Regions from separate parts of the Homo sapiens genome. Here region 1 is linked to region 2. Evidence: fine-mapped expression QTL. Tissue or cell type: whole blood. Region 2 holds a variant in brackets; the other region holds the start of a gene. All regions are shown on one strand. Distances are from middle to middle.

What was found. PIP is the estimated chance that this variant, and not a neighbour inherited with it, causes the effect.
Region 1: FAAP20 starts here. The variant in region 2 is fine-mapped to the expression of FAAP20 in whole blood (TOPMed, PIP above 0.99).

What each region holds. Positions count from the first base shown.
Region 1 is chr1:2,193,653-2,196,325 of GRCh38, forward strand. It overlaps FAAP20 (FA core complex associated protein 20), which reads right to left and starts at 1,120. Exons shown (of 4, transcript NM_182533.4): 1 at 1,036-1,120; 2 at 346-481; 3 at 1-258. The coding sequence starts at 1,097. RefSeq lists silencers at 875-964, 975-1,454 and an enhancer at 2,088-2,673.
Region 2 is chr1:2,143,575-2,146,247 of GRCh38, forward strand. It overlaps PRKCZ (protein kinase C zeta), which reads left to right. Exons shown (of 18, transcript NM_002744.6): 6 at 636-767; 7 at 2,453-2,534. Among named protein-coding and RNA genes, the nearest start is that of PRKCZ-AS1, 39 kb to the right of the region's middle. The variant C/T (reference allele first, on the strand shown) is at 1,173.

The DNA.
Region 1 (2,673 bases), 50 kb after region 2:
CTTCTGGCACATGGGGCAGCTGCGCAGGGCCGCGGCACCCTCCACAGACGGCTGCTGCTCCACCCTGGGGGCCCTGCAGGGATCAGGTGCCGGGCGCTGGGGCAGGGACCTGGCGGGGGATTCCAGGTGCCCTCCTGCCCCGTGAAGCAGCCGGTAGGAACGGCCCGGGCCCCACAGGTCCGGCGGAAAGGGTGTCCAGGAAAAGGTCTTGGGTCCGACAGTGAAGACTTCAGTGGGCTCCGGGCCGCACCTGGGCTCCTGCAACACAGAGTTGTTGGGCCTTGCCCAGCGATGGCTCCCGCCCTGGAAACCCCTTCATCGCTAAGATGGGCCCAGTGGGCACACCTGTCCTGGGAAGGCGGGCAGTGAAGGCACCTCGTGATCCAGGATCAGCTCCGGGCTCACCGTGCGCAGTAGCTCGGCCCAGAGCCGCTCCCGCTCATCACCCCCCAGGAGAAACCAGGGGCGGCCGCCAGAAGGCCTGGGGCAGACAGAGAGGGCAGACAGGGGGTACTCAGTAGCGGAAACGCTATGGTGGGGAGACCCGGGAGGGCCTGGGGCAGAGAGAGCGGGGAGATGGGGGGTACTAGAGGGAAATTCGATGGTGCGGGAGGTGGCCGGCAGGGTTGGGGGAAGGGCTGCTGGGGCAGACAGTGCGGAGATGAGGGGTACTGGGGGTGGGGGAGCGGGGTGGGTGGGTGGAAATATGGGGTCCTCAGCGGGATGAGGCGATGGTTGGGGAGATTGCGGAGGGCCTGGGGAAGGTAGAGGGTTAGATGGGGGGTGCTCAGGGGAGACGCGATGATGGGAGAGGCGCGGGAGGGCCTGGGGCGGCGCGGGGGAAGCTCGGCGTGGGGTGGGGGCTCAAGGCGGGCGCTGAATGGCGGCGCGGGGTGGGGCGACGGGCGTGGGGGCCGGGCCCGGGGGCAGGGAGCCCTCCCCAGGGGGAGAATAGAGCGGGAGGCCCGCGGGGGCGCCGGGAAGCACGTGGGAGCGGGAAAACCGGCCGCGCCCCCGCCCGGCTCCCGGCCTCACCCGCCCGCCGGGCGCGGCCTCCGGCGGCTCAACCCCAGCCGCGGCCTCCGCGCCGCCTCCATCCAAGCCCGCGCCGGGCGGAAGTGAGCGCAAGCCCCGCCCCCGCCCCTCCAGGCCCCGCCCCCGCCCCGGCCCCGCCTCCAGACCTCTGCAGCGAGGCCGCCCCCCTCCGAGACAGTCGGAACCCCAGGGGCCCTGATCCCAGCCTGTAGGGAAACTGAGGCCAGGGTTCCTTCGTCCTGCACCGCACAGGGGGGCCTGGCGTGAGGGTGGGGGGCCCAGGTGGGGGAGCCCCGCCCGTGTCCCCTTTCCCGTCCGGGCAGCCCCCGGGCCGGAGCCCCCTCCGTTACCCCGATGGCTGCCCGGCCCGCCCCGGCACTGCCTCCTCCCGGCTGCACCCAACAGCTCCCGCCCCCGTTTCCGGCTCTGCGGAGCCGCCTCTCCTCCCAGGACCATTCCAGGAGTAAATAAAGCTTGAAATCCGCCGTCGCCACCACCGTTTCTTTACAAAAGGCGGGGAACTCAAGCTCCTTAACCAAGAAACCAGAGGCGAAGTGACAAAGTCCAGGTGGCTCACTTGGGCCTCAGGGGCCTGGGCCAGGGCCCTGGGGGCAGCTGAGGGGCTTTCCTGCCTGGACCCCGGGCTCTGCGACCTCAAAGTCGGCCACGTGGTGGCAGCAGCCGCCCAGGCACCCTGGTGCCACACTTGGCTGTGCCCAGTGCCCCATGGGCCCAGGCCACTTGCCTCTCCCTTGGCCCTGCTGGGCCCTGGAGTGGCTGCCACCCTCACGGAAGGAGTGGGGTCTACAGAGATCAGGGTCAGGGGCCCTCGCCAGACGCCACTCAGGGCTCTGGGACTCCTTGGCAGTTTCTGCCCTGCCCAGCCCCAGCAGCTTTGGGGCTATGCTGGGCACCCCTCCTGCAGGGCTCCCTGGCTGTTCCTACCCCTCACCTGGCCCCTCCCAGCCCCCAGTCGTCTGTGCCCTCCCTCCAGAACTCAGCTGTGGAGCCCGGCCCTGAACCCAGGCCACCCGAGTGGCCCACCGTCCTTCAAGGGGCCCCAGCCTGGAGGCCATAGGTTGGTGTTCAGGGAAAGGGTCAGCAGCAGGGCCTGGACTGGGAGGTCCCCCTCTCCCTGCATGAGTGGTTTTCTTCCGCACACCTTCCTGCTCTAGATGCTGGAGGCCCCCAGCAGAACAAGATGGAGGCACCAACCCCCAGGCCCTTCGACTTGAGTGAGCAGATGGAGATGCAGCGCTGAGTGCTGCCCGGGCAGGGGGAGGGGGCCTGGGGGAGCTGCTGCAGGCCGTGTGGTCTCAGGGGGCCCTGTGGGAGGTAGCCTGTGGCTGGGCCTGCTCTCAGGCGAGAGAAGCCCAGCCGTGGGGTCTCTGCAGCCCCACGTCCACCACATGGCAGGTGCCAGCTGACCAAGCGCTCTCAGACAGCCAGTGTCCAGGGCTCCCCGACAGTCCTGGCTGCCCTGGCTTCAGCTCCGAGCTTCTGGGTCTTTCCTGGAAATGTCACCATGGTCTGCAGGAGGGCCTTGGGTACTTCCAGGAAGACTGGTCCCAGCCTCCCAAGACAGGAGAAAAGGCCAGGCCCAGCAGCCCATGCCTGCAATTCTAGGACTTGGGGAGG
Region 2 (2,673 bases):
CATTTAAACGTTCATGAAAACATCGCCAAACAAGCTGATAATTACCATCATTTTGGAATTGTTCAGAACCATGAAGAATAAAGAAGGATCATTTAAAATCTTGAAAAATACTGAACAAAGAATACTAAGATAATTGCAGGCTGCCATGTAGCAGTTCAAGATGTTCATGAGTCCGAGTTCCCCTTCTCTGAGGCTGTCAGGAGGAGGTTCTGTTTGAATGAAGGTCAGGCAGGGGGTACCCCCACACACTCTGCTTAGCCCTAGACGGGACCCCAGGCTGCTCTACGCAGAGCGCAGCAGGAGCTGCAGCCCCCCAGCCCCTGCAAGCCACGGGGCCTTGCCTGAAGCAGCACCTCGTCACCCCTGCCCGATGGCACCTCCCCTGTGTCCCCTCATGCAGAGCAGGGTTCCAGGCCTCTCCTTGGGGCCACTGGTTCCCCCAACCTTGGGATAGACCCAAGAGGAGGCTCTCAAGCTTGGGCAAGCCTGGCGCCCGGAAGGGACAAGGTGCCGGGGCCACCTGTTGCCCGGCTCAGTGTCCTCTTTTGAGAAGGTATAGGTGTGGAAGGCCCTGCCTGTCCTCTCCGCTGGCCCCTCAGTGTGGCCTGGGCCTGACGCTCTGTTCCCACCTGCAGAGAGCGTACTGCGGTCAGTGCAGCGAGAGGATATGGGGCCTCGCGAGGCAAGGCTACAGGTGCATCAACTGCAAACTGCTGGTCCATAAGCGCTGCCACGGCCTCGTCCCGCTGACCTGCAGGAAGCATATGGTGAGTGGCAGGGCTGGGGAGGCCCGGGGGGCACGGGCGGGGTCGGGGCGTGGCAGCCAGCCCATTGTCCAAGCAGACCTTGGTGACCCTGGGTTCTTCAAGAGGGGCCGTGGTGCCGTCCTAGCTCTGGGCTGCAGCGTGAGACTCAGGCGGCAGTCTTGGATAGGACCCATCTTCCTGAGCCCCCACAAGCCCCCGGCACACTCTGCTCATTGGGGCATGAGGCTCAGGCAGCAGGCTCAGGTAGGACGTGGTACGCTCTGCTCAGTGGGTCGGAGGTAAGGTTCATTCATACCCCAGTCTTGAACCAGCTCTTAAGGACTGTGGAGGTGAAAGCCAGGTCTGACCTAGTAGCATTGGGCACGCTGAGGCTCCGAACATCTGGAGCCTCTCCCTGGCATCCCC[C/T]CTGGGAAGCCATGCCCAGCCTGTGATGAGGGCGGCACCTTCCCTCCGCCATCCCCGAGTGCTTGGACTTGAAGCATCCAGGCCTTTGGGGGCCTTATTGACTTTTGCTTATTGAAGGCTGCCTCTGGCATTTCCGTGTGGCCCCCTGCATCCCACTGAACCACGGGGGTGAGGCCTGGACTGAACATTCAACTCCCTGGGCCCTGCTGCAGCGTGCAGTGGGTGTGTCTGGGGAGGGTGGCTTGTCTGCATCTTGCTGTGGCATGGGAGGAAAGGCGCCTGTGGCAGTGACGTGCCCTCTCCTCTGTTACGGGATAAAGACAGAGTCTGGATCAGGGTGTCACCCCAGGATCACCAGCCACAGGGATGGGGGACCACGCAGGCTGGTGCATGCGTTGGCACAGTCCTTCCAGAGGTCCTTCAGCTGCATCTGCCAAAAAGCCTGTAATGCCCTTTGACCTCATAGGTCCACTTTAGCGTAAGCAAATGAGACCGGCCCCAGAAATGTGGTCAGCTAGAGGCGGAGGGAGGCCAGAGCCTGCCACCCAGCTGACCACCAGTACTGGTGGCTCCATTATGACATATCTGCAGGCGGAACCCAGAGGCCCTTAGAATGGCCCCCTGATGCTTGGTTACTGACAGGATGCAGCTTTGGGACAGGGGAGATGACCAAGCATTGTGCAAAATATCCCGTTGTATAAAGCACTTGGTGGAAAGGTCATGGCCTGCAGTACCGAGTGGCCACCTCCGTCTGCAGAATCATAGGTAATGTTTATGTTCTTTATCTAATTCAGTAAAATAGCATAACAATTAGATTTTTATATACTATATTACAGTATACCCATTGTAATGTGTAAATATGTAAATCATAAATAGTCTTGAAGTGGCCAGGTGCAGAGGCTCACACCTGTAATCCCAACACTTTGGGAGGCCAAGGTGGGAAGATCACTTGAGGCCAGGAGTTCAAGACCAGCCTGAGCAATATGGTGAGACCCCATCTCTACAAAAAAAATACAAAAATTAGCCAGGCATGGTGGTGCGCACCTGTAGTGCCCGCTGCTCTGGAAGCTGAGGCGGGAGGATTGCTCGAGCTCAGGAGGTTGAAGCTGCAGTGAGCCGTGATCGCGCCACTGCTCTCCAGCCTGGATGATGACAGACTGTGACCCTGTCTGTAAAAAAAAGTTCTTAATTTTAAAAAGTCACAAAGTGTTTACAGAAGCTACATTGTAACACCTGCTCTAGCACTTGGTCATGCTGCCATCTCTGTGTCTCTCCGGCAGGATTCTGTCATGCCTTCCCAAGAGCCTCCAGTAGACGACAAGAACGAGGACGCCGACCTTCCTTCCGAGGAGACAGATGGAAGTAGGCGCTGCTTTCTTCCGGCCGGGTAGAGCCTGGGCATCACCTCACCCTGCTCACCTCTGCCTTCTAGCCACGAGTCCTTTCTCAGTCCCATCTGCTCTGCAGGGGTCATTGTCTTCAAGCCTGGCCACCCTTCCCT